Regions from separate parts of the Homo sapiens genome. Here regions 1 and 2 are each reported to be linked to region 3. Evidence: microRNA targets listed by miRTarBase, many of them from high-throughput screens and not tested one by one. Region 3 holds a microRNA gene; each other region holds the end of a gene's coding sequence.

Region 1 (7,192 bases), not on the chromosome of region 3:
TTAGTAGAGACAGGGTTTCACCATGTTGGTCAGGCTGGTCTTGAACCCCTGACCTCGTGATCCACCCACCTTGGCCTCCCAAAGTGCTGGGATTACAGGTGTGAGCCACCACCTCCGGCGTTTTTTTTTTTTTTTTTTTTTTTTTTGAGATGAAACCTCGCTCTGTCGCCCAGGCTGGAGTGTGATGGCACGATCTCGCCTCACTGCAACCTCCGCCTCCCGGGTTCAAGTGATTCTCCTGCCTCGGCCCCCGCGAGTAGCTAGGATTATAGGCACCTGCCACCACGCCCGGCTAATTTTTGTATTTTTAGTAGAGACAGGGTTTCACCATGTTGGCCAGGCTGGTCTAGAACTCCTGACCTCAAGTGATGCGCCTGCCTTGGCCTCCCAAAGTGCTGGGATTACAGGTGTGAGGCACCGTGCCTGGCTCTACATGACCTGTCTTTTTCTCTTTTTTCTTTTTTTTGACCTTTCTTTTGTTTAAGAAAAATAGATTCTCAGACAGGATCCCATGATCACTGGTATCCCTGGGTTGTGCTGAGGCACTATAAAACCAAACAATGGGCTGGGTGCAGTGGCTTACTCCTGTAACATAGCACTTTGGGAGGCCAAGGCAGGAGGATGACTTGAGCCCAAGAGTTTGAAACCTGCCTGGGCAACATAGATAACATCTCTACAAAAAATGCAAAATTTGGCCCAGCATAGTGGTGTGCACCTGGAGTCCCAGCTATTCGGGAGGCTGAGTGGGGAGGATGACCTGAACCCAGGGAGGTTGAGGCTGCAGTGAGCTGTGATCTATAGCCTAGGCTACAGAGTGAGACTCTGTTTAAAAAAAAAAATGTAGGTTAGCTGGGTGAGGTGGCACATGCATGTAGTCCTAGCTACTCAAGAAGCTGAGATGGGAGATTACCTGAGCCCCAGGAGGTTGAGGCTGCAGTGAGCTATAATTGCACCACTGCACTCCAGCCTGGACAACAGAGTGAGACTCTGTCTTAAAAAAAAAAAAAAAAAAAAAAAAAAAAAAGCCAGGTGTGGTGGCTTATGCCTGTAATCCCAGCAGTTTGGGAGGCTAAGGCTGGTGGATCACTTGAAGTCAGGAGTTCAAGACCAGCCTTCTCAACATAGTGAAACCCCTCCTCTAGTAAAAATACAAAAAAAAAAAAAAAAAGTTGGGTGTGGTGGCATGTGCCTATAATCCCAGCTACCCGGGAGGCTGAGGCAGCAGAATCTCTTGAACCCAGGGGGTGGAGGTTGCAGTGAGCCGAGATCTCGCTGCTGCACTCCAGCCTGGGCGACAGAGCGAGACTGTATCCAAAAAAAAAAATAATAATAATAAAAATCAAGTAGGTGTCTGACTTATCAGAAAAGCTCAGAAACTGCAGGGAGATGCGTAATGCTGGTTTAGGGGAGCAAGCCGTTCTGTGGGGGGCCCACCTCTCAGATGGGCCTGGTATGGAGACCCAAGGCCAGGCTAATCAGAAAACTCCATTCCTCCTGACCATGGTAATTATTCAGGGATGAGAATGTGATCCTTGCCTATGGGACCCTGGTGCTGCTGGTGGTGTAAGGGAAGCTTGCTGCAGGGGAAGAATGAAGCCACCGAAGATAGAGGGTTCTGATGACATACTAGTGCCTGCGCCTGGCTGACCTGTAGCTGGTACTAGTCTGGACTCCTGCAGAAACCAAGCTGATCTCTTTCTGTCATGGGCTGGAAGTGGGTCACATGGTCATGTCTTCTTTGGGTATAACTTTTCCCTAGAGTGTAGGATAGAGATTAACACTGGTGTTTCTCTGTGTTCCTTGGCGGGCTCTCTGATTTTCAGCAGCTCCACATGAGATCTGCTCTAAATCACTTTTCACAATCGACTCTGCCAGGATTCCCTGACTCTGGGGCTCCCACTCTGGTAAGCAGCACTAGGGTTTCAGTAGTCCCCTGTCCCTACTGAGAGCTCCAGGTGGAAGATGGGATCCTTTCCCCATCCTCAGGTTTCCTGGCCTCTAAGTCCCTCTGAGAGCCCTTCACCATTTACTGTCTCCCCATCGTTCTGGCAATTCCTAGGGGTTAATCCCCAAACCCTAGAGGTTTTGCCGTAATGCAACCGCAGGCGCTCCATCAAAGTTCAAACCCCGGCCTGCAGGATGGGGATGCCGGAGGCTCTGGGGAAGAGGTTGTGAAAGGGTAACACTGCCGCCAGCCCCCTCCCCCAAGTCTACCAGGCCCTTCCCGTGCAGATTTGCATTTGGTTTGCACAGGACTAATTTATCTCAAGGAACTTCCAAACCTAAGACCACCATCCCAATCACCTGAAGCTATCTGCGGAGGCTACACCCTTTCCCCCGGGCCAGCTTCCACATCTGCCCAGTGGGGCATTTCCCCTTGTCCCACCCAGCGACTGGTTGACAGGAAGCAGGGTGTCTATGGACTGGCGGCGGGCGCCCCTTTTCCTCACCTCCCTGCGCGGCCAGCGGGGGCCCGGGGTGTGGTCAGGTGGGAGGCCCGCGCCACGTGCGGCAGGAACCGCCTGGCGAGTGGAACCCGAGCTTGCACGGGGACAGCTGATGCCTTTCTGGTCGCTCCTCTAGAGCTCCGCGGGCTCCGGCAAACCCCCCCGTTAGAACTTGCGGTTCCAACGCGCAGCGCCAAATCTGGCCCTTACTTGACCCGTCAGCGCCTCCAGTCGTCCCCATGTATAAAGTAGGACCGAGGAGCCACCTCGCCAAGCTTTCACTGCGCGGAAACGCGCCCATCAGGCTGGAAAGGCGTGGTTCCTACTACAGCTCGGCCGCGGCAGGCTGGGGCCGAGAACCGGCACCCGTGCACGGCGGACTAAGACGAGGGTGAGGGACACGGGTGGGCCGGGAGAGCCCCGTTCCCATAGCCGGCTTCCTTGAGCCCCTCCCCAAGTTCTGGGACTCCCCAAGTTCCCACCCCGCAAGCCAGTGTGGTTTCTTCAGATGAATTTTATTCTTACTCTCCACGGGCTGCTCCGGCGTCTAGGGAGGGAGTGTGAGCTCCGAGGACTTCCCGCAGCATCCCCACCAGAGGCGTCCAGGGGAGGCTGAGGGCCGGCCCCCGTCACCCCCGCCCCAGGAGCACACGGGACTGAGTGTATGGCACAGGCATCGTCTGGAGGCCTTGCTTGTTCAGTGATAGTTTATTGGTCCTTAGCATGACATCTCGATTACCAAGGTAAATTCACATACACAACTGCAGGTAAAAACATGTAAAATAATATAAAAATAAATTGAAGGCTACTTTTATATATTTACTGAATTAAGTAGTGTAATAAATACTATGATAAGCAAAAAGCTTCAATCGCACAATTCAGTTTCACTGAAGTTACAGTAGTGTTTGTAAATACGAGTTTTAAAATTTAAGTTACAAATATTAAAGCACTGAAAAACTAGTATAAAAGTGAATTTTGGCACGTAAGTGAGCTCTTATGTCATTAGTATTTGACATCCTGGGACAATGAGGAAGCCAGTTCTCACCTACTTTTTTGAGGTACAACTATCCAACTAGATCAGCAACACGGCTGGAATACTTCGTAGTTTACAATCTTTGAATTGAACTTTTCCCTTTTGAGAAGCCCAAGGAGCAACCCAGAGCTTCTTACTGTGCAAAAATTCTCCAAAATCCTAATAGAATTTAGGAGGGAACTTTTTCTTGCGACCTGAAGGGCCCAGTGTCCAGGCTTCAGGTCAGATAGCCCCCAGGGCTCAGAGGGGCCGGCTCAACTCCTTGCCAACGGCCCTTCCCTAGGATAATAATCCCATTTCCTCCAATTTCTGTCTCCTTCTTCCAATCAAAAACAGAAAAATCCCATGTAAAAACATAAAATAACCCGTAACTTCAGCGACTTCAACATTATCCCACGCACTCTGGGTGATATAAACTGAAGCTGCTAATAGGAAAGTTAGCAAAAAGCATGTAAGCCCCGGGAGGACTGCCTGTCCCTGGGAACCCACCCCCGCTCTTTGCTGGGTCCCTGGATCCACTTCTAAGGTCAAAAGCAGTGTCATGGCCATTCCTTTGGAAACAGCAGAAGACCCTGCTCCTCCCACCTGGAGCGCCGCCTGGAGGAATCAAGTGGATACTGACCTTCACAGAACAGAGAGGCCTGGCAGGTTCCAGGAGGCATCCCCTGGCCTCAGTCCTCAAAGAGCTCACAGTGCACCGCGGGTGTGCCTTATCAGTGGGGCAGAGCAAGTGGCCCCAGGAATGCCCTTTCGCCAGCTGCCCCTTCACGTTCCCGAGTAGGCTGAGGAGCATCAACAGAGGCCTCAGCCAGTTTTGCCTTTTTGGCTTTGATGCTTCTTCACGTTTTGACTTTTTTCAATCACAGTTTCATATTCAAGTTGAGGTAATCACAGTTTTTTCTCTAAGAGGAGAGGAGTTGGGACAGTGGGGCAAGTTGGTGAGAGAGCATTTCTGTGAAGAGAAACAAAGACCACCACGTAGTACAGCCCCACATGGTGAGAAGACCCGCTCTCACGGGCGGGCTCCGACCCCTCTTTAAAAACTCTTCTGCAGCAGCCAGACTGCCAGGCCAGTGCAGTCAGGAAATGGCTCAAGCTCCTAAAGCTAGAGCTTTCATTTAAAACTTCACAGCAGCCCACTTAGAGAAATGGCCTGTGGTTCCCACCCCCCAACCCCTTTTCTAAGGCTGCTCAAGTTTGAGTTTTTAAAAAGAGTTCGGTAGAGCTAAAGGAAGCTACAGTAACTCACTGCTTATTAATCAATTGCACTTAAGATCTATGTTACTGATTCTGAAGCGAGGCAAGCCCTTGACGGACCGCAGCCTCTGGCCAGCCAGAAGTCAGGGGGCTCCCAGACTTAGGTTCCACAGTGGGGCCCTTGTCATCAGTGGCTTTTGGAGCTGGGACTGGAGCACGTGGGTCTTTTCAGAAGCCCTTCTTGATGCAAAATTTCTTATCAATGGTATCTGGAGTTTTGTTCATTTGGCTTCAAATTGTTTTTTTTTTTTTTCTAATATATTTTACTGACAAGCCCTTGAGAGCTGCTTTGCTACTTGCATGCAGGCCTCTGTGTGACCAGGCACACAGACTACATGTGCTCCATCTTGTCTCTCCGCTGCTCCAGGGGCCTTGCTCAAAAACCCCCTATATTACTGGAAACTGCTGGTTTTACCTATGTGCTTCTTCCTAAGGCATGCAAAAAAAAATATGTGAAATTCAGAAAACATTTACAGTTCAGGCAGCTGAGGCACTGAAGTCCTAAGAGACATCACCTAAATATCAGTGGCTGTGACTCCCCTGTCCCCCACACCAATTATGAAGGTCAGGCATGGGACACACTTGTAATTCCCCTCTGCTTTATGGTCCAGCTTAAAACGATGCCATTAGAAGGAATTCTAACTCAGGTATTGCAATTATTTGAAATTCCCAATCCTCAGGAGCCACACAAGCCCAGGGCCAGCAACAACACTTTGGGGAGCGGGGGGATGAGTTTCCTGAAGTTTGTGGCTGAAAAGCAGGCCTTCCTTGGCAAGGCTTGTGGGAGCGCTGGGTGCTGGAGACTGACCCCACAAGTGATCAGCCACCAGGCCTAAGACTAACCAGCTGCAGGACGCCCCCTTCCACAGTGAGGTGAAGCCTCGCCAGGGGGCCTGAGCAGCAGGCTTGCTCTTGTCCCTACATTAGGACACCCGAATGGTGTGACAGGAGAGCTAAAGAACCACCCACAAGGGGAAAAGCTGATGTCAACTTAAGAGCCACACACCTCTGGAAAGCAACAAGCCTCTCCTTCAGTTTAGTCCAGAAGGGAAATCCCCTCATTTGTGAACACATCATTCATCTCAACCCAAGCTGCTGGCTCTGTGGACTGGGCCTGGGCAAGGCTGTGCTGCTCCTCCCAGGACTGGGCCCACGGCCAGTACGGCCAGCTCCTTCAGGGAAACGGGCCTAGCAGGGGAGGCAGGCACTCCACTGGGGAAGATGGCTCTCGTGGAGCAGCATCTGAGGCTTGAGGCCTGTCGTGGCCTCGCCTCCCAGACACGGCCACAGTTCAGGCAGCCAGGGTTCCTTCTAAGTCCCAGTAGCTCCTCTGTGTAATCCTAATGCTTCTCCCCAACCTCAAGAGCCCAAAGGAGATCCTGTTATCAGAAACCCAGAGCTCCTGGACTGCCAGTTGCACACGTAGACGGGCAGGCCCCATCTGCTCATCCTTGAGTATTCCCCCGACCCCCAAAATCAATGGTGCAGGTGATGCTCTTCAGCGCTATACAGGGAATAAAGACAACATGCACTCAAGCCAGCCCACACAGGCCAAGGAGAACAAAGACAGCCCCTTAAGGGAGAGGCCTCCAGCAGAGCTGAGGTTAAGACACCCGTTCGTCCATCTCCAAGGTGGACATTCTGCAGGACGTACGGGCCCAGCCTTCCTCTAGGGCTTCAGCTCAAAGAGGTCATGATACTCCTGCTGTTCCAGCTCCTGGTTATACTTCTCAATTTCCCGGTTGGCTTCTTCCACGTAGTCATTCATGAACTGGTCCATGACTGGTATCTCATTAAGGAAGAGAGCTCTGAGCCTGGAGGACAAGGGAGGCTGCCTGAGCCCAGAGCGGCCTGTAGGCAGGTGAGGGGGGTTTGCTGAGGAAGTGAGTGTCTGGCCCATAGAGAGGGAACCTGATGGACTCTTTGTATATACTGGCAGCACCACAGCTACAAAGAATGCAATGGCTGTTGTCACAGGGATGTTAATGAGGTCCTAGAACTGAGCCCTTCAGCTTCAGCCCTATCCATCTTTTCACAGGTTAACTGTTGTAATTAGGCTGTCTTCGACTTGTAAATCGTGACTCTGATGACGACAGACTTCAGGATATCACCGCAGCTGCATCCAAACTATAACTCACAGGCTGGGCGCAGTGGCTCATGCCTGCCATACTAGCAATTTGGGAGGCTGAGGTAGATGGATCACTTGAGCCCAGGAGTTTGAGACCAGCCTGGGCAACATGGCGAGACCTAGTCTCTAAGCTGGGCGCGGTGGCTCATGTCTGTAATCCCAGCACTTCAGGAGGCTGAGGTGGGAGGATCACCTGAGGTCAGGCGTTTGAGACCAGCCTGACCAACATGGAGAAACTCCGTTTCTACTAAAAATACAAAATTAGCCGGGCACGGCGGCAGGCGCCTGTAATCCCAGCTACTCGGGAGGCTGAGGCAGGAGAATCAC
Region 2 (7,161 bases), not on the chromosome of region 3:
GAGGCAGCTGGGACAGCCTGCCAGACACCAGCACCACCGACCGGCTGGACAGTGTCTCTATTGGCAGCTTCCTGGACACAGTGGCCCCCAGCGAGCTGGATGAACAGGGCCCACCTGGGGCTCCACGTTCCGAGATGGACTGGGCAAAAGTTATAGCTGGTGGAGAGAGGGCCAGGACTGAGGTGGATGTGGCAGCCACCAGGCTAGGGAGCTTGAGAGCTGTGTGGAAGCCCCCAGGGGAGAGGCTTCAAGGTGGACCACCTGAGTCACCAGAGGATGAGAGTGCCAAGCTGGGCTTCGAGGCCCACTGGTTCTGGGAGCAGTGCCAGGATGATGTGACCTTCTTGTAACAACTATTCCACCCTTTTGTAATCCTGTGGCTCTTTTATCCATTAGATGTGGTCTCCCCCAAAATTGATTCTCCCTCAGTCTGAGACTAGGAAGAGGCTGCACTGAAATCAGTTACCATGGAAACCTGGCTCATCATTTCTCTAGTCCCTAGGGAGTCTCTGCCTTTATCCCTCAATTATTGGGTCCCTAGAGCTAGCTTGCTCTTTCTTTCTTTCTTTCTTTTTTTGAGACAGGGTCTTATGCTGTTACCCAAGATAGAGAGCAGTGGCATGATCACAGCTCACTGCAGCCTTGACCTCCTGGGCTCAAGCGATCCTCCTATTTCAGCCTCCCCCATAGTTAGGACCACAGGCATGCACCACCATGCCCAGCTAATTGTTTATTTATTTATTTTTTTTTTGTAGAGATAGGGTTTCCCTGTGTTGCCCAGGCTGGTCTCAAACTCCTGGGCTCAAGGGATCCTCCCGCCTCAGCCTCCCAAAGTGCTGGGATTATGCCCAGCCCCTAGAGATACTTCTATAGAGATATTGACTCTAAAGGATTGACCTATGGCTTTTGGTATTTAGTATCTCTCACTACTCCCCCCAGCTAAGTAAGGATTTAAGGAATTTAGGACTCCCTGGAGTTAACAGATGAAGAGATGGGGGCATAATTACTTCACCCAAAGTCTAGAAGCCTTGGCCTCTCTCTTGGCCAAGATGGAGGATTGAGGAGGGACATGGACCTTCAGGACTAACCCTCTATGGATTGGCCCTCCCAGAAGCGTTTGGGCTGGTAGACCCACCCCTTCCTACCTGCTGAGTGATGTCATTTCCTGCCAGGATGGGTAGCCCTTTGTACGGGTCCTTGGATGGTAGTAGGTCATATAGGGGCATCTGAGCCCCTGCTGCTAAGTGAGATCACATTATTTATCGTCCATACCATTACTTCTTGTGAACAGTAACATGTCACTCCTCCTGGCAGGAAAGTTTCTCATTGTCAGATGTTTGTGCTTCTTTTCAGGTCTTACTTTTTAAATAGAGTGTTCTCATTTTATCCTAGGGGATCTCACTTCCTCTGTGGCTCCATCCCTGCATCCCTGTCTGGGCCAGCACTCCTGACTGCTTTTAGGGAGAGAAGCTTTCAGGGGCCTCCATTTATTTCTCTCAAGTCTGTTTGGCTCACCCTGCCATGGTCCCCTGTCTTACCCTGTCCCTGTGTTGCCCCTATTCCTGTATTCCATTTTTTTGTTTTGTTTTGTTGTTTTTTTTGAGATAGGGTGACAGGGTCTCCCTCTGTTGCCCAGGCTGGAGTGCAGTAGTGCTCACTGCAGGCTCGACCTCCTGGACTCAAATGATCCTCCTTCCTCAGCCTCCCAAGGAGCTAAGACTACAGGCATGCATCACCATGCCTGGCTAATTTTTGTATTTTTTTCCAGAGACAGGGTTTCACCATGTTGCCTAGGGTGCACTTGAACTCCTGGGCTCAAGCAGTCCTTCCGCCTCAGCCTCTTAAATTACTGAGATTACAGGCATGAGCTGCTGTGTCTGGCCCTATTCCTGTATTCTGACTCCATATCTCCCTTCCAGGAGGTTCAGCTTCTGTGTGTCCATGCCTTTTCAGTTTCTCCAGGCCTTTTATATGCAAATGAGTCCTGGCCTCCTCTGCCCTTTGTTGATGGGAGCCAGGGAGAGAGAACCTCAAGGTCTCAGAGCTCTGGGGGTGTACCAGAATCTTGGATAGGGGAGGTGTCATCCTTTCTGACTTTGTGACTGCCCTTCCCCCACCCTGTCCCCAGCCTTCCACCATTTGGTCACAAGGATGCCTGCCTGAGGTCGGGACACAAGGAATCTCCTTGTCTAGGCTGCAGCGTGGGGGCGTGGCAGGGAAAGACAGAAGCTCTTTGGTCCCGGGGCCCCATCCTGGAAAAGGAGAGGGAGCAAGGGAAAGGCCTGTTTACTTCCTCCCTTAGAGCAAGCCCTGACTCCCGGAAACTGAGGAGAGAGCAGAGCCTGGGTCTCTGAGCCTGGGTCCCAGAGCCCTGCCGAATTACAAATTATATCATAGAAGGAATTCAGGGAAGCTGCCAACCTGGGGCTCAGAGGGGACGGTCCCAGAGATGGGGACAAGAGCTGTGGCTGGTGTCAGAGAATGAATTCTTAGAGATTAACCCTTTGAACTCTGGGGTAACTGCTCCATATGTTAGTCCCTGCCTTTCCTGGGCCTTGAAACTGGGATACTAGAAGGAAAAAGATGGAAAAGGATGTCAGATGACTTTGGCTGTTCACTGCATCCTCCTGCAAAAGAGGCGTCCTCCTCAAATCCTGGAATAACTCGTGCCATTTCTCTATTTTGTATTCTGTGTTGGGGAAGGGAAGGAAGCCAAATTGATCATCTCTGCTTCCCTAAATTCCTCAAGTCTCATTTTGAAACTCCCACCCCGGTCCTTCTGGAGCAATATTCAGTCCATGGCTTGTCCCTAAACACCCTCTCTTCCCCTCCCACCCCCTCAAATGATTGAAATGTCCAAAGTATATTCTCAGCTTCTTCCACTGCTCACAAGACCTCTCCATACCACTCCTATGGTCTTGGGACTCCTGACTTCCCCTCAGACTGGGAATTTGAATCTCCTATTCCAGTCCCTACTCTGTAGTCATTTTGTAGTGTGCCCTCGGTTAATTACCCTTCCTGTTTTTTTTTGTTTGTTTGTTTTGTTTTGTGTTTTGTTTTGTTTTTGAGATGGAGTCTCGCTCTGTCATCCACGCTGGAGTGCAGTGACGCGATCTCGGCTCACTGCAACCTCTGCCTTCCGGGTTCAAGCGATTCTCCTGTCTCAGCCTCCTAAATGGCTGGTATTACAGACGTGCACCACCATGCCTGGCTAATTTTTGTATTTTTAGTAGAGACGAGGTTTTGCCATGTTGACCAGGTTGGTCTTGAACTCCTGACCTCAAGTGATCCGCCCATCTCAGCCTTCCAAAGTGCTGGGATTACAGGTGTGAGCCACCTGCCTGGCCTGTTGTTTTATTTTTAAGACAGGGTCTCACTCTGTCGCCCAGGCGGGAGCGCAGTGGTGCGATCTCGGGTCACTGCAGCCTCTGCCTACTGGGCTGAAGTGATCCTCCTCAGCCTCCTAAGTAGCTGCGACTACAGGCACGCATCACCATGCCCGGGTTACTTTTTGTATTTTTTCTAGAGACAGGGTTTTGTCATGTTGCCTAGGCTGGTCTCAAACTCCTGGGCTCAAACAATCCTCCCACCTCAGCGTCCCAAAGTGCTGAGATTACAGGCCTGAGCCACCATGCCCAGCCTTTATTTCTTTTTTTTTTCTCTTCAGCAACATTGTTCATGGAATTATACCCTTCTTGGAAGACACTGTATAGTATTCTTATTTGAGGTTCACTTGTTCAGTCTACACACTTATGAGCTGAAGAGGTTGCCCGCCCTCTTGTGGCCATTATGCACCACTGCTGGAGTTGCTGTGTGGAACCTCCAAGCTCAAATAAAACATGGCCTTCTAAAGACCAGCCCCCGTCAGTGCGCAGAAAGGCTAGTGAGTCAGACCTAAAGAGGGCATAGACTTGCCCAGCATCACCCATTGTAAAGTTGTGGCGACGTCCAGGTCAGAAAACCCAGATCACAAGCCCACATGCCCACAGCTCCATCACCTGGCCAGTCAACACCACTGAAGCCCAAAGGGACTGAAAGCAATTTTGCCCCTGTTACAATGTTTGCGTTCTCACCTCTTCCTAAAGAGGCAGCTTAGTCTTTAGAGGAAGAGCTGCAGGAAAGAAAACCCTGGGCCTGGACTGGATGAAGGGGTGAAGGATGCACTAGTCTGGATCACAGATAGGAGGAAAAATCAATCCTGGACCCACCATTTTTCTGGGAAGGAGGGCTAGTAGCTCCAGACATCATAGGAACAGAGCTCAGCATTTCAGACCTGGAGGTTAGAAGCAGAGGTGGGGGTGGGGAGCTGTGAAATTAGGAAACTTAGATGGGTCTTGCAGAAGTAGGTGTGGCTCCACAGGTCAGGGAATTACGGGTCAATTGGATAGCACCTGAGAGTGTTGTGGGGCTGGAAAGCTGGGGTGAGTGAGGCTGCCTGGGTATTCCGCTTAGGTCTAGGCATCCTGGCTGAATACCTTAGATTTCAGTTCACCACCAGAGAAGCCCGGAAACTCCAGTAAACACATATCTTTGGTCCCTTCTACCTGCCTCTAACTTGGCTGGTTGAGGCTCAGCTTCTCTCTAACTAGACTTTTCTGGCTTATAGGGTACAGCTGTTTGGGAGCTCAAAGAAGGAGAAGGTAAGAAAAAGGGCAGAAATGCAGAGAGAGGAGAGGATGGGATGAAAACGGGGTGTGGAAAATATCAGAGGGCGCATACTGCCCTCAAGTGCACTGGGGGCTTTTGTCCGGGGTCAGAGTAAAGACAAAGAAGAGGCTGCTCATGAAAGCTGCAGAAACAGTGCCTGGGGGGATAAGCGGGGGCGGTGCTGGCTGAGACAAGAGACCATGGGAGTGGGCATTGTAAAGACCTGCATTTATTTATTTTATTTATTTATTTATTTATTTTGAGACAGGGTCTCACTCTGTCGCCCAGACTGGAGCGCAGTGGCATGATCTCGGCTCACCGCAACCTCCGCCTACCAGGCTCGAGCGATTCTCCTGCCTCAGCCTCCTGAGTGGCTGGGACTACAGGCACACGCCACTACCACCCAGCTAATTTCTGTATTTCTAGTAGAGATGGGGTTTCACCATGTTGGCCAGGCTGGTCTCAAACTCCTAACCTCAAGTGATTCACTCGCCTCGGTCTCTCAAAGTGCTAGGATTACAGGCTTGAGCCACCATGCCCGGCTGAGGCCTGCATTTAGGATGGAGGCATTGAGGTTGAGCACTGAGCTAACTGGAAGCTCAGTGACAGCTTCAGTGAGAAATGCTTGAGAGTTGTAGCAGACACAAGCTCATTGTGTGTATGGTGCCAGGCACACACTGGGTGTTCCGTGACACCTGTTCAGTGAATGGAAGAATGAATATGTGTAAGCCCACAAGGAGATGTGACTGAAAAAAAAAGTTGCTAATTTACAAATTAGATAATTGAAAATATTTTTAAATTTACTTTTTAGCAATCCTATAAACAGTGCATTGTTAACAATAGTCTTACTTATAAATTTGCTCAAGGTCAGTTAAGTAACAAATGAGCTGTAATAACCCAGATCAACCTGACTGCAGGGGCTTCCAGGAAGCCTCCTCTGATTCCCTACCCATGCCATACACTCACTTAGACCCTACTCTCCTAGGAGAACAGATTAGTGCTGCCCAGAAGCTGGGGCAGGACATTAGTTTCCTATTGTCACTGTAATGAATTACCACAAAGTGGCTCAAAAAACAAAATTATTATGTTACAGTTCAGAAGTCCAAAATCAGCTTCACCAGGCTAAAGTCAAAGTGTTGACAGGTCTACACTCCTTCCGTGGGCTCCAGGGAAGAATGTTTCCTTGCTTTTTCCAGCTTCTAGATGCTGCTTGCAGTGCTTGATTCGTGGCTCTTTTCACCATCTTCAAAGCCAGCAGCAGAGCATCTTCTCTCCTCTCTAACCTCTGTTTCCATCCCTACATCTCTCTAATTCTACTGCCTCTCACTTGTAAGGATTACATTGGGTCTACTGGGATAATTCAGTATCATCTTCCCATTGGCAAGATCCTTAATTAAATCCTGCCTTCAAAGTCCCTTTTACCATTTAAGATAAAATGTTCACAGGTTAAGCAGCTGGTGAGTGTCTGTAGTCCCAGCTACTCAGGGGGCTGAGGCTGGAGGATCACTTGAGCCCAGGAGTTCAGGCCAGCCTGGGCAATATAGTAAGACTCTTCTCTTAAAAGAAAATTTATATTTATCCTCAGGTCCTGGGGATTAGGAATTGGACATCTTTGGGAGAGGGGCTTTTAGCCTGACACAGGCAGGGTGGAAAGTGGGCAGGAGGATGCACCCAGGCCCAGAATGAACCTCTGTGCTTTGTCCAGCCTCCCCTAGCCTGGAATGAGAGGTGGTACCAAGGCGGAGGTGGCAGGTCCAGACCCCATGTCTAGAGAATGTCAAATGCCTCCTGTACCATCACCACCAGGGAGAGCCAAAGATGAAGATCAGGCTTAGGAGAAAGCCTCAGTTTAGGAATCGTTTTAGACCTGAGACCTTCCTGGTAACCACAGTGGAGGATTCCTCAACACTGTCTCCTCTCCAGAACCATTCTGTGCTCCTATTCCCCAAGGCTGAAGATAATTATATTCCCAGTGAACTAACCTGGGTTCTCTCTGGAAAGGGCAGATTGATTAGTTGTCTTCTTTTTAAATTGTTATTTTTAATTATTTAATAGTTAAACCATGCTTCTCATAGCATAGTGAATTCCATCACCAGGCCCCTTTCTTATTTTATTTTCTTCTTTTTTAAAAAAATTTTAGACTGGGCACGGTGGCTCATGCCTGTAATCCCAGCACTTTGGGAGGCCGAGGAAGGTGGATCACCTGAGGTCGGGAGTTCGAGACCAGCCTGGCCAACATGGTGAAACCCCATCTCTACTAAAAATACAAAAATTATCTGGGCATGGTGGCGCATGCCTGTAGTCCCAGCTGCTCAGGAGGCTGAGGCAAGAGAATTGCTTGAACCCAGGAGGCAGAGGTTGCAGTGAACCGAGATCATGCCACTGCACTCCAGCCTGGGCGACAGAGCGAGACTCCGTGTCAAAAAAAAAAATTATTATTTTTTTAAGAGACTGGGTCTCACTGTCACCCAGGCTGGAGGACAGTGATGTGATCTTGGCTCACTGTAACTTTGA
Region 3 (7,192 bases):
CCACTGCCACCTCAGGACCGCTGGTGACCCCTTTCTCTGTCTGCATTTAGGGGGTGATCGCTGAGCTGAAGGTGCGCAGGGACCCCCAGGTGAGCCCCATGCACTGCCTGGACGAGGAAGGCGATGACTCAGATGGGGTGAGTGACATCTGGGGCACGGGTGGGGTCTCCCCTCAATCCCTGGCACGCGGAGTTCAGGGCCAAGGTCTATGACAGGAAAAGTCCCAAAATATACCACTTGGGGCACTGGGAAGCTGCGATACCATTTCTGTGCTCTCCTGTAGCACCTCAGAGCCCTTCCTTGCCCTGAACTTTCCCATAAAAACAAATACAAAGCATGATATAAACACCAGAAACCACCCTCCATGGCAGCTGGTGAGACAGAGGATGTGAGGCAGCTCAGCAAAGTGTGTGTGTGTGTCTGTGTCTGTGTGGTGTGTCTCTGTGTCTTGTGTGGTGTGTCTCTGTGGTGTGTCTGTCTTGTGTGTTGTGTGTGGATGTGTGTGTGTCTGTGTGGTGTGTCTGTCTTGTGTGTTGTGTGTGTTGTATGTGTGTCTCTGGTGTGTCTGTCTTGTGTGTCGTGTGTGTCTGTGGTGTGTCTCTGTGTGTAGTGTGTCTCTGTGTGTGGTGTGTCTCTGTGTGTGTGGTGTGTCTCTGTGGTGTGTCTGTCTTGTGTGTTGTGTCTGCATGTCTGCATGGTGCGTGTGTCTCTGTGTCTGTGTCTGTGTGTTGTGTGGCGTGTGTGTTGGTGGGGTGTGTGGAATCACGTGGTACCCAAGGGGAGAATCCCCCAGCCCCAGGTGTGAGGAACAGCAGGGAATTCTCACTCAGGGGCCCAGATCACAACATGCCCCACGTGAACATGGACCCACAGCCTCGCTCCTGGGGGCGTGGGCAGGAGACGCCGTGGACGTGGACCCACAGCCTCGCTCCTGGGGGCGTGGGCAGGAGACACCGTGGCTGGACTGTGGGCAGTGTGTGAACATCCATGTTACTTTCATGCTTTTTCTTTATTTTGCCCAATAAGCCCGTTGTTTTTGCCTGGAACATGCCAGAAGACGCCAGATCGTTCACATGGCGGCCATGACAAGGCTGCGCCCTGGGACAGCTTGCTGGGTGCGGGGGGTCGCCGAGGCGCCGCACCCCTCCCCTGGCCTGTCTTGCCCTCAGGGGTCAGTAGCGGTCCCTGAGGATGTTTCTCCTCCGGGTTTTCCTGAAGTTTAAAACATCCAGCCGCCTTGGCGCGTGTTCGGCCCAGCCGGGCGTGCGCTGGGGAAACCTGTGCGGGGAGCATCTGCGGTGCGGCCTCCTCCAGGGCAGGGCTCTGGCCAGAAGAGAGGAGCGCGTTCCCCCTCCCGCCTCCGCATGTCTGACCACCGGCCGAGGCAGGTTCAGAAGCGTCACTGTCCTCGACCCGATTGGACACGACTTACTGAAGCTCAGATGGTGCCTGGGCAGGGAAGGCCAGCGTGCCCACCCCAGCGGCCCCCCGGAGAGCACCAGAGAGGGCTGGACGAGGCGAGAGGGGGCCTGGAGGAGGCGAGAGCAGCGTCCTTTGCTTCCCAGGCCTGCCGGGCTCGGGGCCTGGCCTGGCTGCCATCTCTCCAGCCTTTCCCTTTTCAAACTCCTCAGGCATCCGGAGACTCTGGCAGCGGGCTCGGGGACGCCCGGGAGCTTCTCAGGGAGGAGACGGTGAGTAGCCGGACGGGGCCCAGCCCACGCTGCAGGGTCCCGGGAGAGCCCCTCCCAGCAGTGGGGTGACACATGTGCACACGCAGGTGTGGCTCCAAGAGCTCCCTCTATGCCACGAAGACATATTCCTGGCTGGGGACAGGGATGCTGGGCTGGGCAGACGCTCGGAGCCTGGGCACAGGCCCCGCTCCGGCCCTGCCTGGCCGCCGCGTGTCTCTGGTGAGAGGATATTCCTTTAAAACGAGGTCCTGCCCTGCACACTCCTTGGTCTTCGAGGCAACCTTGGCCTTCCCTTCGCCCCATCCCTCCGTTAGCTCGTGCGTGGCCATCAGGGAATGAACGCGTGTGTGAGCCTGACGACCAGGAGGAGAAGGCGGCGCAGGGAGCGCGCGGAAGGCTTTCCCCAGCTCGGGCCACCTGAGAAAACACAGGAGGGGCGGGGAGTGGGGAGGCCCCAGCCGCGGGACTGAGGCGCGGTGCTGTCCGTGAGAGACGGGTGCGGGAACGTGTTCCCTGCGGGGACCCTCTGCAGATTCACATCAGCTTCCCAGCATGGCCTGTCGGGCGCCGGGAGGCCTCTGTGGTGACGGCAGGCGCGGTCCTGGGTCCTGGGGAGCCGGGGAGCCCACAGGCGGCCACACCCCTGCGGCCCACGGAAGGAAGCCCCTCGCGCACGGCCCTGGAGCACCCTCCTGTTTCAGAGGATTTTTCTTTATCTTTCTTGCGATCTTAAGTATTTCATTTCACAAACCAAGCAAGTCTCCACCGGGCATCTGCCGGCCGAATAACAGGCCACCTCCCCTCTCGTCCTCCAGGGCGCGGCCCTAAAACCCAGGCTCCCCGCGCCACCCCCCGTCACCACGCCACCCTTGGCTGGAGGCAGCAGCACGGAAGATTCCAGAAGTGAAGAAGTCGAGGAGCAGACCACGGTGGCTTCGTTAGGAGGTAAGCTCTTTTCTGGATGTGGTGTGTGTGTGGTGTGGGGTGTGTGTGGTGTGTAACGTGTGTTTGTGTGATGGTGAGGTATGTGTGTGATGTATGGTGTGTGTAGTGTGTGGTGTATATGGTACATGTGTGTGTGATATGGCACGTGTTTGTGTGAAATATATGGCAGGTGTTTGATGTGTGGTGTGTGATGTGCATGTTTGTGACATGTGTGATGTTTATGTGATGTGTATGTAGTGTGTATGGTGCATGCATGTGGGCATGTGTGTGTGCAGTGTGTGGTGTGTGTATTGTGTGTGGTGTGGTGTGTGTGTTGCGTGTAGTGTACGTGTGTGGTGTGCAGTGCATGTTGTGTTGTATGTGATGTGTAGTGTGCGTATTGTGTGTATGTGTGTGATGTGCATGTGTAATGTACATGTGTGTGATGTGTATTATGTGTTTTGTGTGTGTGTGTGTGTGTGTGTGTGTGTGGCAGGTGGGGAGATGCCGAGGCCCGGATGGTGGCTCTGGGTACAGGCTCTGGGTGTTCACTGTGCTTCTCTTGCAGGATTTCTGTTGGTTTTCATTTTTATTTTAAGTAAAAGTTAAGAGGGAAAAAGGAAAAGGGACAAAGCATGCTGGGTGATAAGAAGGCATTCTGGGGGGCCAGGGTCTCTTGTAACAAATTCAGGAAGCATCTCCCAGACTTCAGCTGTCATTGGCTTAGATGGCCACACCGGCCTCACTGTTGATTTTAAATTCTGTCTCCCTGTTGCCTTTGCCTGGGAGCTGGAGCTCAGGGGAGTGCGGCCTGAGGCTGGGGATCTGACAGTGTCCAGCCGGGCTCCAGGACTGAAAGCGTTTGGGCTGCCGGGGCCGTCTGGGGTGCCGAGAGCAGAGCTGGGGCCACCCGGGGGGCGTGACCGTGGCCACCTCTGCTTCTCTTCCCAGCTCAGACACTTCCTGGCTCAGATTCTGTCTCCACGTGGGACGGGAGTGTCCGGACCCCTGGGGGCCGCGTGAAAGAGGTAAGGCCACCTCCCTGTGCTCCTGAACCATTCTGAACCAGAGCACCTGTGGCCTTTTGGGCCACTCACTGGTGAGCCCTGATGAAGCCCCTCTGTGCCCGTGCCTCCTTTGTGCCCAGCACTCGGTGCCAGCATGCGTCCACCCTGCGTGTCCACTGTGGGAAGCAGCCCAGCCTGGGACTCTGGAGGGCGCAGCGGGACACGTGGGCAGGGTGTGTGGGGCCCCACCCCAGCCCGAGCCCTGTGTTCTGTTTATTCCCAGGGCGGCCTGAAGGGGCAGAAAGGGGAGCCAGGTGTTCCGGGCCCACCTGGCCGGGCAGGCCCCCCAGGATCCCCATGCCTACCTGGTCCCCCGGGTCTCCCGTGCCCAGTGAGTCCCCTGGGTCCTGCAGGCCCAGCGTTGCAAACTGTCCCCGGACCACAAGGACCCCCAGGGCCTCCGGGGAGGGACGGCACCCCTGGAAGGGACGGCGAGCCGGTGAGTCCTCACGTCCCCCCGAGTCCGGCCCGGTCTGGAGGGTGGGGGCTTGGGTAGGAGGGGGAGAGGCTGCGGCCGACATGGGAGTGAGCTGAGCTGGGATCGGGGCAGGTCAGCAGCCTCCTTAGGCCCACCGTTGCTCGGGGTTGGTGCTGGAAGGTGGTCAGACGTGGGAGGCGGAGCTGCTCAGACACAGCCCTTGTGGGTGTGAGGAGGCTCCTGGCGCGGGTGCGAGGACATCGGGGGAAGGCGTCTGCCGCCTCGTGGGGACTTGGAGCGTGGGGTGCATTTCCATGTAGACACTGTAGGTGGCGCCGGAGGAGTCATTTCCCATCACTAATGGCTTCTCTTGCACACCCAGGGCGACCCCGGTGAAGACGGAAAGCCGGTGAGTCTGCTTTTCTTTCTGACCCCTGTGTTATCTGTGATGTTTGCTTAGACCCCAGGGCTTTGTTGCCAGTGACACTCTTTTTAAACGCGACCCAGTGAGGAGACTGTACAGCAAAACCATTTTGAAAGTGGAATTTTGTAAAGAAAAGATGAGTGTAACTGTTGATGGGAAATAGCAGTTATGCATTTGTGTTGAGACATTTGGGCCACAACTACCATGAAGAAGGAAAGGAAGTGAGAAAAGGCAGAGCTTCCAAACCCTTAGAGGGAAGACGCACAGCAAAGAAAAAGGAAGTCGGGCGGGGCAGGGGGTGGTGCAAGTCGGCGGGGGAGGGAAGCACGGGGCGACCTGAGACTCTGTGAAGTCCGAGCTTCGTCGCAAAACACGCAGTTCAGTCTTTAAAAATCAGCAAACACCGTTTCCAAGCACAGTAATGACGTGATCGACTGCGAATAAAGACCTGGGAACAGCCTGCCCAGCAAATGGTAACACTCGGCAGAAAGTGGGGCCGTCACGAACGCTGGACAGGAGGGTTCAAGTTAAAAACAGTCTAGAAGGTCTGAAAGGACAGGGAGGGCATCTCATGGTGCCCACCGAACGGTCATTACCGACCGCCTGGCACCCCACAGCCAAGCTGCCTGCGATGAGGACCACGGCAGACAAAGGACAGTCGGCTGGGGGGCGGCACGGGGCCCACCCACTGCAACAGGGTACACGCACGCGTGTGAGTGTGGGGTGATGATCCACGGGGCCCACCCACAGGGCACACACACGTGTGTATGTATGTGCATGTGTTTGAGTGTGTGAATGTGTGACTGCGCGTGTGTGTGGGGGGGTGAGGATCCACACGTACACATACCACACATGCACACACAGCACATATCACACACCACACATTACACACCACACGTGGACACATGCACACACATTACACACATGTGTGCACACACCACACATTACACCACACGTGGATACACTTGCATACACACACTACACACACGTGTGTGCACACACACCACAGGTGGACGCATGCACACATGCTACACGCACGTGCACACATCACACGTGGACACATGCACACACACCACACATTACACATACCACACGTGGATACACACATACACATACCACGTGTGCACACATGTGCACACCATGGATTATGCACACCATACATGCACACTCACACATCACACATACATATCACACATGTACACACCACACTCCTCACACACACACCATGCATACCACACACACACACACATGTATGTAACACCCAAGCACCAGCTGTTGTGGAGGCCTTCGGGGAACCTGCTGTGACCTCCCGAGGGATGCTGCCCGCAGCTTCCCCCAGGCGTGGCTGGCGAAATGGGCTCAGGCGGGAGACAGTCTGCTGGGCCTGGCGCCCTCGTACTTTCCGGGCCCCAGAGACTCCCCTGAAGGGCTCAGCTCCCGTCCGTCCCCTGCTTGGGGGAGGAGCACTGAGAGTGCTGGGTGCGGCCCATGGTGGTGCCTTCCCTGACCGGGCCCCCGGATGTTGTGTTCCAGGGCGACACCGGGCCACAAGGCTTCCCCGGGACTCCAGGGGACGTAGGTCCCAAGGGCGACAAGGTGAGTCTCCGTGGCTGGGTGGGGCCCCTTCCTGTGTTGGCCCTTGGCTCAAGGTGGGGGCTGTGTGCGTGCCCAGGGTATGATAGGCTTGTCTTGTGTTCCCAGGGAGACCCTGGGGTTGGAGAGAGAGGGCCCCCAGGACCCCAAGGGCCTCCAGGGCCCCCAGGACCCTCCTTCAGACACGACAAGCTGGTAAGTCCCGCCCTTGGCTTCCTGCGACCCGGGGTCTGCCCTCCTCAAAAGCAGGCACTGCCTCTGGCCCAGAAGTATCAGCTCCACCCTCAGGGGCTTGCGTGGGGTCTTGGCTGAGCTGAGGGGTCACAGGTGTGGTGGGAGCCCCCATCCACCTGCCTTCAGGCTTCTCTGGGGGCAGCAGAGGGGCCGTGGTTTCTCAGCTCCTTGTAGAAACAGCTCGATATGCAGCTTGCGGGGCAGGGGCCAGGAGTAGGCCAGGCGGGGGGCCGAGCTCAGGGCAACGTGTCTCTCCGGCTCTTTTCCTCAGACCTTCATTGACATGGAGGGATCTGGCTTCGGGGGCGATCTGGAGGCCCTGCGGGTGAGTGGCCCTTAAACTGCAGCGCTGCCCGATGTCTGTGCCCATGAGGAACAGGCCATGGACCCCCAAGATTCAGCTGGGGTCCTGTGGGGGGTGGGGATGAGGCCCGTTCTGGGGGTGGTGGTCATCCCTGGTGGGTGCCACATGGGCTGTGACTATCTGTGTTCGCCCACGTCCAGGGTCCTCGAGGCTTCCCTGGACCTCCCGGACCCCCCGGTGTCCCAGGCCTGCCCGGCGAGCCAGGCCGCTTTGGGGTGAACAGCTCCGACGTCCCAGGACCCGCCGGCCTTCCTGGTGTGCCTGGGCGCGAGGGTCCCCCCGGGTTTCCTGGCCTCCCGGTAAGTCCTGCCTCCACCGTCAGTGTCGGGAGCCCTGTCTGCTGGGAGTGAGGGGTGAACACCCCACATGGGAGCCCCTGCCCCGCCTCAGGCCTCCCCAGTCCCCGCCTCCTCACCTCATCTCCTCTAGGAGCTGGCGGGCAGTTGCTGACTCGGGGCCACCCTGGGGTGTGCGGAA

The links. Region 3 holds the annotated microRNA hsa-miR-6815-3p (UGGCUUCUCUUGCACACCCAG, at 4,462-4,482, shown strand). A microRNA usually pairs through its seed, bases 2 to 8, with sites in the 3' UTR of a target mRNA and lowers its output. Matches are read on the target gene's strand: a 7mer-m8 pairs with bases 2 to 8, a 7mer-A1 pairs with bases 2 to 7 and ends in A, and an 8mer does both.
Region 1: miRTarBase lists DNAAF9 as a target of hsa-miR-6815-3p. Seed matches in the 3' UTR shown: 7mer-A1 at 4,964-4,970.
Region 2: miRTarBase lists LURAP1 as a target of hsa-miR-6815-3p. Seed matches in the 3' UTR shown: 7mer-m8 at 1,022-1,028.

Annotation. Positions count from the first base shown.
Region 1 is chr20:3,246,166-3,253,357 of GRCh38, forward strand. DNAAF9 (dynein axonemal assembly factor 9) reads right to left here. Exons shown (of 37, transcript NM_001009984.3): 37 at 3,141-6,519. The coding sequence ends at 6,407. Among named protein-coding and RNA genes, the nearest start is that of SLC4A11, 11 kb to the left of the region's middle. RefSeq lists enhancers at 1,968-2,713, 2,714-3,458, 4,118-4,618.
Region 2 is chr1:46,219,871-46,227,031 of GRCh38, forward strand. It overlaps LURAP1 (leucine rich adaptor protein 1), which reads left to right. Exons shown (of 2, transcript NM_001013615.3): 2 at 1-1,386. The coding sequence ends at 350. It also overlaps a transcript of POMGNT1 not described here. Among named protein-coding and RNA genes, the nearest start is that of LURAP1, 20 kb to the left of the region's middle. RefSeq lists an enhancer at 1-60.
Region 3 is chr21:45,473,845-45,481,036 of GRCh38, forward strand. It overlaps MIR6815 (microRNA 6815), which reads left to right and starts at 4,422; the gene lies at 4,422-4,482. It overlaps COL18A1 (collagen type XVIII alpha 1 chain), which reads left to right. Exons shown (of 42, transcript NM_001379500.1): 4 at 51-137; 5 at 1,632-1,691; 6 at 2,507-2,636; 7 at 3,567-3,643; 8 at 3,906-4,121; 9 at 4,483-4,509; 10 at 6,058-6,120; 11 at 6,226-6,312; 12 at 6,623-6,676; 13 at 6,856-7,014. RefSeq lists an enhancer at 1,004-1,504.